Linked DNA regions of Homo sapiens. The protein of the gene in region 3 purifies or fractionates together with the protein of the main gene of each other region. This does not show direct contact. Each region holds a gene or a part of one and is shown on either strand. Other genes may lie near its edges. The genes, in order: ZRANB3, MRM2 and CAMK2D.

Region 1 (3,657 bases), on a different chromosome or scaffold from region 3:
AAGACAAATCCAGAATGGCAAATGATCCAGTATATTCAACCATTGATAGTATGATAGTATAAAAAAGGAATGGGGTGCTATAATAGATTAAATGAAGCATAAGAGGCATTATAATCAAATATACTATGTGGGTGACATTTTGATTCTAATTTGAACAAAGTAACTATAAAATACTTTTTTTTTTTTTTGGAGACAGAGTCTTGCTCTGTTGCCCAAGCTGGAGTGCAGTGGCATGATCTTGGCTCACTGCAACCTCTGCTTCTCAGGTTCAAGCGATTCTTCTGCCTCAGCTCCCGAGTAGTTGGGATTACAGGTGCTTGCCACCACGCCTGGCTAATTTTTTATACTTTTAGTAGAGATGGGGTTTCTCCATATTGGCCAGGCTGGTCTCGAACTCCTGACCTCAGGTGATACACCTGCCTTGGCCTCCCAAAGTGTTGGGATTACAGGTGTGAGCCACTGAGCCCAGCAAAAGGCATTTTTGAGACAACCTGGGAAACCAAACATAGACTTAGTATAATTAAGGAATTGTAATTGTGTTGGGTGTGATAACTCATACTGGGATTATATTTAAAAGAAAGAGAGGAAAGGAAATGAGGACAAGCAAAGAGGGAAGGAGGAAAGGAGAAAAGGAAGGAAGGGAGGAAGGAAGGGAGAGAGAGAGAAAGGGGAAGAGGGAGGGGGGAACAGGGGAGGGAGAGGAAAAGAAGGATAGAAGGAAGGAAGGAGGTCTTTACCTGTGAGAGATACAGAATGAAAATATTCAAGAGTGAAAAGAAACGTTTGGAATTTTCTTTAAAATAATCTAGGAGATGGCCGGGCATGATGGCTCATGCCTGTAATCCCAGCACTTTGGGAGGCTGAGGCGGGTGGATCACCTGAGGTCAGGGGTTCAAAACCAGCCTGGCCAATATGGTGAAATCCCGTCTCTACTGAAAATACAAAAATTAGCCAGGTGTGGTGGCACATGCCTGTAATTCCAGCTACCCAGGAGGCTGAGGCATGAGTATCGCTTGAACCCAGGTGGCAGAGGTTGCAGTGAGTTGAGATTGCGCCACTGCACTCCAGCCTGGGTGACAAGGGCGAAACTCTGTCTCCAAAATAAATAAATAAATAAATAAATAATAAATAAATAAATAAATAAATAAAATATTCTAGGAGAAACAAACAAGTGAGTCAATGACAGATGAAAATGAATGCCAAAATGCTGTAAACTGTTAAAGCTGGCTGATGGACATATGGGTCCATTATTTTCTTTCCTTTTATATATCTGAATATTCCCATGTTAAAATGTACAAAATAGAGAGTCAATATTCATTACTCAGTACAATGCTGCCTTCTATCTATCACATGATTATAACTTACCTGTTCTAATGGGAGCTTTGAAGTCCAGGTAGCATACAGAAGATTCTTCCTCTGACTTTTAGGGGCATCTCTCAGACGTAAAAAGAGTTCTTGTGCGTTCACATTACAGAGCTGACACACACCATGTTCAGTTTCAAATACTTTGGCTCTCAGGTAACTGTTATTAGATCGAATCCAAAACTCTTCCTGACATTTCAGAGAGCAAAACCGTGAATCCCAAGAGTTCGCTTTACATGCTTGCTTAGTCTGGCAAGTGGGTTGCTGACAGCGAAGGCAAAGTGGATTTCCTTCATTATCCACAGCTTGCAAATAGCCTTTGGATGTAGAGGGCTTCACAGTGAGATCTGCCTGGACTGTGTATGGATTTAGAAATGGGACACAGGCTCCATCTTCAAGAAGTTTTCTACAATTGATAAAAACACTGAATAGGTAACTAATGAATGATTAGGCTAAATAGTAATTGCTTCATATAAAGGTTATCAAAGTTTCAATACGGATAAATAGTAAACACAGATCACAGTGTAGAAATAAAATAGTTACAGTCAGCACTCTATATTCCATGCCAAGTAAAGAAGAATGGTGTGTTACAAAAATTAATTGAATATAAATATGTTGCCTCTCTTGGGAATTAACACAAGGGGATGCCCTTGTGTTAAACGATCTGGAAACATGTGAAACATCTGGAGAAGCTGTTAGAAAATGCTTCTTCAGGCTGGGAAAGGACAGGCTAATGTAAAACCCCAACCAAAGCTTAGTGGCTACCCTGCTCCTTAAATATATGTGGTCACACACCTCATTAGCTCAGAGAGGTAATTACAAACTCTCTCCTCCAGCCTCTGCTAGCTCACAGGAAATAGAGTCACAGCCATAAAGTGACAGAGTGAAATAGCTGACAGTGCTGATAGGAATTAGAACAGAAGACTTGCTCTTATAGGTAAACGCAGAGTGGATGAAATTAAACATGATAGGATACAAAACATGATAGGATATGTGCTCAATTTGTTAGAATAAAAGAAAAGGTACACTACTCAATTTTGTTAGAAAGTCCTACTTGGGAAGTAACAACAGCTGCTTTGTCTGTTTTCCATGGTTGTTTGTTAGAAGAGTTAAAAGAAAGACTTCTAATTATGGAGCTCAAGATTCGGGGACAGAGCCCAGATTTAACCTCAGGTCTCCTGGCCTCTACCCGCAAGCCCTGGGGCAGGTTACTTAGTCCACCTGGTCTCAGTGTCCTTCTTCATCTCTAATGTTTAAAATGAGGACACCAGGTACCTCAACAGGTTGCTAGGACAACTGAAGAGCTACTATCTTGTGAAAGTTCTTTGTAACCTCTAAAGTGGTCATGCAAAGGTGAGATATTATTATGAAAATCAATACATAAATGTAAAGGAGTGGAATTAGTACTACTATATACTAGTAGTAGAAAAACCTTACTTTGTGAAAGGATCCCGTGGCCTGGACTCCTTTGTGATCAGACGGACATGGCCCCCAACATTCTTCACTTTGTCCATTGAGGCTACGGCAACATCTTCTTTGGTTATGTATCTAAAACAATGATATGTTAAATAGATTCCCTCTATCTCATATAAAAATGTCTCTATTGCATGTTTACATTGTTCCTTGCAAAAGCAATAGAAGAAAAAGCAAGCACAATTCTATTAACTGTGCTGAAACTCAAGTTAGAAAATGGAATTTTTACCCTTTATCTTGGTGTCCATTATGTGAGAAATACATCTCTTTGTTCCAAATTAGTTTTCTCAAATTTCTTTTTCTAAGAAATTCAAGAGTCATTCAATATCCTTTGGAGCAATTTTCATTTAGGGGAAAAAGGAGTCGGTGTGAGAATAAGAAATGATCAAATACACGCACAACTGACAGCCTTAAGGAAACTGCTTGGCAAGCTGTGCAGAAAATCTCTAACTGTATTTTACCTCCCTCTTGGCCTTCCCTTCAAGGCTTCTCCAAATCACCTTAGTCAGTTATAATAGTGTATCAGTGTTTGGGTAAACTGAGTTTCTTTTTAGTTAACCAGGTTCAATCACATCTTCTGTAATCTCAAGGTTGTTCCCCTTATTATCAGCCCATACAGGGTTTATGGATTCTTCCACAGAAATAAAGCCACTCTTGATATGGGATTCAGAACCTTATTACCCAACACTAACAATACCACACAATGTTCAGGGACTAGAAGTAAAGAGAAGTTATTCCCATTAAAGGTGATGGGGGAATTTAAGTTGGTAAAATGCAATTACCTGATTAATTCCTTCTTATTAATTGGCCTAGTTTCTCTGG
Region 2 (2,912 bases), on a different chromosome or scaffold from region 3:
GGATGCTGCCATTTTCAAAATGAAAGACAAGGTAGAAAGGTGCAGTGAACATGGAAATCACCTCGCATGAGACCGCCCGCAGGTACCAGCACCAGCATGGTGGTGTGCATCCTTCCAGGCTTGTGCATGCATAGATCCCTCACATTTTCAAAAGCGATGTTGTGCCATACTTTTCTTGCTAATTTGCAGCCTATTGGAGCTATTTTTGCTTAATGATACATACATATATGTATTATATATATATATATATATATATATATATATATATATATATATATATATATAATTATTATTGTTATTATTTTTGTTCTTCCCCCCCCTCCAGATGGAGTCTCACTCTTGCCCAGGCTGCAGTGCAATGGTGTGATCTCGGCTCACTGCAACCTCTGCCTACCTGGTTCAAGCGATTCTCCTGCCTCAGCCTCCCAAGTAGCTGGGATTACAGGCGCCCGCCACCGCACCCAGCTAATTTTTTCTTTTTGTTTTTTTAAGTAGAGATAGGGTTTCACTATGTTGGCTAGGCTGATCTCGAACTCTTGACCTCAGGTGATCTGCCCACCTCGGCCTCCCAAAGTGCTGGGATTACAGATGTGAGCCATGGTGCCCGGCTACTCTTAATGATGTATTGACATCTTTCCCCAACAGCACAGCTAAATTTCCAAGTCGCATAAGCCCTGGGGCTTTCCTGGTGGCCCCACTGGGGCTGCTCCGTCCGGAACCTAGAAGAGGCTTCATGGCCAGGGCTATGGATTCTTTGCTCTGGATGAAGCTGAGACACAGTTTTCATCTGTTTTGTATCTTAGGGTTTTGAGTAAGATTTTCTATATAAAAAGGTTCTCCTGAATAATGAGATCAGCCAACCGCCCATGCAACTGAAGACACTGTCGTCATTGGGAAAGTTTCATCCTATTCCATGTAGTGCTTGCACCGTAGGTTCTTTAACCAGCTCCCTCACTGTGGCATCAAGGTTGCTTTTGGCTTTTGGCTGGGATGCGTGTGCTGTGGTGAATATCCTTGCCATTTATGTTTCCTGCTGTAAAGCCAGGGTAGCTGCATGCACTGGCATTTGAACAGGGTGAGACAGTCCACCCAGAGCTCTCCCAAGTCTCTCCCAAATACCTTAGAGTAGGGACACTGGTCCCCATTTATTGGTGAGAAAACAGGCTCAGGGTTTCATGACTTGTTGAAAGTGCAGAAATGGAATGCTGGCCCCCTGGATCTGCACATCTGCCTCGCTGCTGGTTTGCGGTAGGTTTGCCATGAACTCTTGGTGTCTACCTGCATCCCCTTGGGTGGCCCCTGCCCATACTTAGGCGGGGATATGCCTCTTCGGGCTTTTCAACAGCATTTTTTTTTTTTTTTTTTTTTTTTGTTTATAGAGCCTCACTCTGTTGCCCAGGCTGGAGTGCAATGGCGCCATCTCGGCTCACTGTAATCTTTGCCTCCTGTGTTTAAGTGATTTCCGGCTAATTTTTGTATGTTTAGTAGAGATGAGGTTTTGCCATGTTGGCCAGGCTGGTCTCGAACTCCAGGCCTCAGGTGATCCGCCCGCCTCTGCCTCCCAGCATCCTCGAGGTGCTTCCTGGTGCTTCCATCGTGGTCAGCCTGAAAGCCTTTTTATTGTTTTTCAGCTCAACATTTATTGACTAAATAAGTGAATTTGTGTTGGAAATGTCAGTTCCTTTTCTCATTGCTGAGCTTATCACCGTGGAGTCCTCCTAGTAACTGATTTCAGTGGTTTCTGTTCCCCTAAGTGCTCTTGAGATGAAGCAGGAGAGTGGCCCAGCGTGCCTTGTAGGAGGAAGTGACAGAAGGAGAGAGCGTGAGCGTGATCTGCCTGGGCTTGTCCTCCCGGAAGTCACAAGCATGCAGCCAAAGCTGTTTGCCTTCGGTGGAAATTTCCGAAGGTTGTAACATACTGGATATTATAGGAGTGAAAGCTCAGGAGCATAAAGTGAGGCGTGAGGCCGGGCGCAGTGGCTCACACCTGTAATCCCAGTACTTTGGGAGGCCAAGGGGAGGATCACCTGAGGTCAGGAGTTCGAGACCAGCCTGGGCAATATGGTGAAACCCCCGTCTCTACAAAAAATTAGCCAGGTGTGGTGGCATGTTCCTGTGGTCCTAGCTCCTTGGGAAGCTGAGGTGGCAGGGGTCGCTCGAACCTGGGGAAGTCAAGGCTGCAGTGAGCTGAGGCCGTGCAACGGAGTGAGGCCTTGTCTCACACACACACACACAAAGACACACAAAGATAACTTGCTGATATTTGAGTAACACCAGTTTGCTAAAACTAAAAAGATGCCTTTGTGTCACCTTACGTAAAACAAGACTTGTTGCCTATAACTGATCTCAGCATCTGCCTCCCCCTCTTCTCACTCTGTACCTACATTCAAAGCCCCCTCTTCACAAGCCCAACGCCCCCATCTCCCCAACAGTCCCCTCCACTGAGGAGGGCCGTAGTTCTGTTGAGAAATTGTCAGAGTTGATAAGCTAAGGGTACAGTCACAGATTTTCTTGTTCAGTCTGCTTAACAGAAAGGCTGTTCCAACGGTAGGGGGAGAGAAAGGGACCGTGTTTCATTCCTAGTGTAAACATTGGAAGTCCAGGTATTTTGAAGATTACCTCATTTTTCAAAGGCGAAACCCCTCAGTCTTCACCCCAGGAAAATGGGACGCCTCACGCCTCATTTTAGCTGGGTCTCCTGAGTAGCTGAGACTACAGCTAATTTTTATATTTTTTTGTAGAGACAGGATCTTGCTATGTTGCCCAGGCTGGACTAGAACTCCTGGGCTCAAGTAATCCTCTTGCTTCAGCCTCCCAAAGTGCTGGGATTTTAGGTGTAAGCCACCACACCTAGCCGATATCAGTTTTTGTACGTTATTTTATATCTGTTCATTTTCCTCATCTCTTGACTT
Region 3 (3,657 bases):
CCAAAATAGAAATAAAAGTATCTCAGAATATTTCTTTCATTTGCATTCACTGATAAAAACTAAATATAGCATATTAAATACATGTGGTGCTTTAACCATAAGTGCCCCTGTTCATTTGACAGGAAGCCGGCTATGTTTTGCCTAGCATGTTTCCCGAATAGGAAATTATTCGTGTGTGCATCCCTCCCCTTTTCTCACGTACCCTGTACTAACATAAATACTGAATTTTGATCCCTCTTTAATAGACTTTTTACCTCTTATCTCTTTGGCTCTTGCACAAATATCATGTTAAATTCTGTGCACTTTGATTTAAAGGAAAAAAAAGGTTTTAACTATCTGCAGAATATAGATTGATGACAACATTTATAGAATTTTCCAGTAAAGGAAAGTTTAGAAGTTTTCTCATCCTTTTCTGTGGGTCAAGCAGCACAGTGTCACAACTTATTGTAAAAATAACGATACCAGTAATCAGACAAAAGGGAATGAAAAGAAAGGAAAAATATTACATATTTAAATTAATTTATGTTACTTTCTATCTTCCTCTCAATACTAGTTTTGACAGGATATATAGTTATCAGATATAGACTTCCAGAAAACCCGAACAATTAAACTGGTGTCACCACTTGAAATGCTCATTTGATACTCATTTATTTTATATAGTATATGTTTCTCTTTACATCATTATCTATATTTATATTAAAATCATGGAGGTATATTCCTTTAGAAAATAATAAATAAAATACCTAGATAATATAGTATAAGAAAATGAACGTTACCTTACATTTTTGTTTGAGAACCGTAATGTAAGTTGTCATGCATGAGTTTAAAAGAATGTTGATTGATTATTATTTTTCAGTCCTTGATTCTTAGTGCCCCGACTCAGTTGTAGTTTCTGATTGCCACTTGTCTACAAAGAGTCTTCTCTGTGGACCGTTAGAACACTTATTGACCCTCTGAGTTGCTTTTACCACGCAGCTTCCACAGTGGTAATGATATATTCTTTAAAGTCAAATCCAGTTATGTTAAAGCAAGGGAATGATATTACCAAATATATTCTGCAGTGATAGCAGTAGCACATTGACAGAAAATGTAGTATTTTCCTCTTACACAACTGTAAAAATTAAAGTCCTTTTACATTCAACATAAAAAGTTTGATTTCCCCACTAATAATTGAAGATGTAATTTTTAGAGGAGATCTACACTTGTCATTTTTAAAAGCTATTGTGACACCAGCGTTTTCTCAGAAGATCTAAATTTTCATTGGATAATTTAATTGCTCCTAAGCAAAGTAATGCTGGATCCCCAGAGAAAGATGTATGTGTGTGTGTGACTTCAGGCTCAAGAATAAAATGAGGGAAGAAAGAAATATATTTATAACTGTGAACAATTGGAAGCTTGGAAACAGAATCCAACTTGAACAGTATGAGAATGGTTATATTAATTTCATACTCTGAAACCTGATTGGAGCTCCACTGAAGCAGCTCTTTGTTTGCTAAGGTGGCATAGCAACAGCAGACACGTCTGTTTTCTCATTGCACCATCACGGACATGGTCCAGCCTGTGTGTGACCATCGGAGACTAGCGATCATCATTCCTGTCAGTCATCACCATGTCTTTCACGTTCATCTTCAGTGGCTCTTTATCTTCATGTCTACATCTCTATGTAGACATGCTGCATCTAGAGACATTGGCTACCAAGGGGTTTAAGGCATCTCTGTTTCTATTTTCTGCATACCCACAGATAAACAACAAAGCCAACGTGGTAACCAGCCCCAAAGAAAATATTCCTACCCCAGCGCTGGTATACCTGGACTCTTTGTAACCCTTCTTAAGTTCTTTACATTTTTTTTTTTTTGTGGTTTCTCTCATTTGCTTTCACTATATAGATACATATATATAAATATTTTATTTCGTTGGGTGTTGGGTTTTGTTTTTTTTTTTTTTTGCTTTCTATGATATGACCAAGTTCATTTCTTTTGGTTTTTTTTGGTTAAGTTAGTTGTCAAGCAGTGTGTTCTAACATGAGATTATCTCATTTCGTTGTTGAACATTGTACTGATAGCTGTGGTCTCTGTAGTTGGAATTACTGCATGCTGCATTCAAAATACAGCGCTTTGGTTGCTCTTAGCTCTTCTGATGATGATAGTTCTAGATTATGCAAACAATGGTTTCTTCTTTTCATGATGCAAATGCTTACATCAAGGAGAGCTAATGGGATTGTTGCTAGACAACATGAAAGTAGACCTTATTCAGAGTTCTCGTTTCCCTCTTATTAAAACACAACAGGGCTTTGTAAGACTTCACTTTCTGAGATAAAGAGGCACTGGATAATTTAGAGCTTTCTGTTTATTATGTTTTAAATTAAATTTTCACTGTTTCACTTTAATCCAAAGAATGAAACTGCAAAGAATAGAGGTTTGAATTATCAGTGGAAACCAGTTATGTCTATCTCAATCAAATCCACACAATTAACGACTAAATTAGTCTAACACTTTGAGATGGTATTATGTTAAAATTCAGAATTTGAATACTGTCATTCAGTGCTGAGTTCCATAACATTTTCCCTAAACTGTTTCATATTTTGATTTATGATTTTCAGAAATGTTTTTCAATTATTTGCTCTTCTCATACTGTTATTTTAAATAAATTTAAAAATGTTAAGGAATCATTTCACTTGAGTTAACCATGAGGCTCCATTTAAAAACATTTAAAAGGAGGACACATCAAAATAACAGGTTATCTACTAGTAAAAAACAATGTTGATCACAGCTGTAGCCAAGGGAAAGGGAGAATGGAAGCAGGAGATATGTCTCTCAATATTACAGCAGTGTAAACTGTAGTGGTGGGGGAGTGTCCATGATTGAGAACTCCCAGTGGGTTGCAGTACCTCCCCATTGCCAAGATATCACACAATGAAAGTGCCAAGCATGTCACTGATGTATGCATATTGAATCTTTTTTTACATCAGTTATTTGAATGTTATTCTCCACTTGGGAATATTTCTTTGCTTTCTGATAGAAAACAATAGAAAACCCATACTTTCTTCATAAAAAAGCATGACTTTATAGCCAGATATCCTGTATATATAGTCCATAAAGTAGAAGTTTTTTAGATATGAATTAATACAGGATTTAATAGCAGTATGCCTCAAATTATAGTGATTACATGATTAGTTCTAGATTAGTAGATTAGTTCTAGTTCATGATTAGTCCCTTAAACTTTTTAAATGTTCCTTAAAATTTTTTTATGGTCTTTTGAAATGGATTCTTTAGTATAGTCTTTTTTTAAGTGTTGTCCAATGGCTCTAGATTTTATAAGGGTATTCAGTTACGTATTAATTAATGACACCATAATCGAGTTTCAAACCAATATAACTGAAAAAATATCTTCTCTGAGAATTTGAAATCATCTCAGAGTTTTAGCTCCAGTGTCCTTGGCCAGTTCTCTATGGGACAGACGTTCACAGGCCACTCATTAAAGAAGAAAGGAAAGCATAGGATTAAGTGAAACAGTGAGTGCCTCTTCAGATCTCTAAATATCAAAGCCTTGTTTGAATGCTGATCAAGAATAAGGTCTTTTGCATGCTGCTTCTGGGTAGGGAGGTTCCTATCTCATGGCCTCGCCAGGGAGATCTTTCATCAGAGATATTGTCAGCTG

The links.
Region 1: the proteins of CAMK2D (region 3) and ZRANB3 purify together in Homo sapiens (co-immunoprecipitation; 3 studies listed by BioGRID and IntAct, with this or other methods). This does not show direct contact.
Region 2: the proteins of CAMK2D (region 3) and MRM2 purify together in Homo sapiens (co-immunoprecipitation; 3 studies listed by BioGRID and IntAct, with this or other methods). This does not show direct contact.

Annotation. Positions count from the first base shown.
Region 1 is NC_000002.12:135,206,069-135,209,725, forward strand, and holds part of ZRANB3 (DNA annealing helicase and endonuclease ZRANB3), read right to left. Parts: intron 2,911-3,657; coding exon 2,800-2,910; intron 1,769-2,799; coding exon 1,366-1,768; intron 1-1,365. UniProt on the Homo sapiens protein: DNA annealing helicase and endonuclease required to maintain genome stability at stalled or collapsed replication forks by facilitating fork restart and limiting inappropriate recombination that could occur during template switching events.
Region 2 is NC_000007.14:2,236,351-2,239,262, reverse strand, and holds part of MRM2 (rRNA methyltransferase 2, mitochondrial), read left to right. Parts: intron 1-2,912. UniProt on the Homo sapiens protein: S-adenosyl-L-methionine-dependent 2'-O-ribose methyltransferase that catalyzes the formation of 2'-O-methyluridine at position 1369 (Um1369) in the 16S mitochondrial large subunit ribosomal RNA (mtLSU rRNA), a universally conserved modification in the peptidyl transferase domain of the mtLSU rRNA.
Region 3 is NC_000004.12:113,503,120-113,506,776, reverse strand, and holds part of CAMK2D (calcium/calmodulin-dependent protein kinase type II subunit delta), read left to right. Parts: intron 1-1,741; coding exon 1,742-1,801; intron 1,802-3,657. UniProt on the Homo sapiens protein: Calcium/calmodulin-dependent protein kinase involved in the regulation of Ca(2+) homeostatis and excitation-contraction coupling (ECC) in heart by targeting ion channels, transporters and accessory proteins involved in Ca(2+) influx into the myocyte, Ca(2+) release from the sarcoplasmic reticulum (SR), SR Ca(2+) uptake and Na(+) and K(+) channel transport.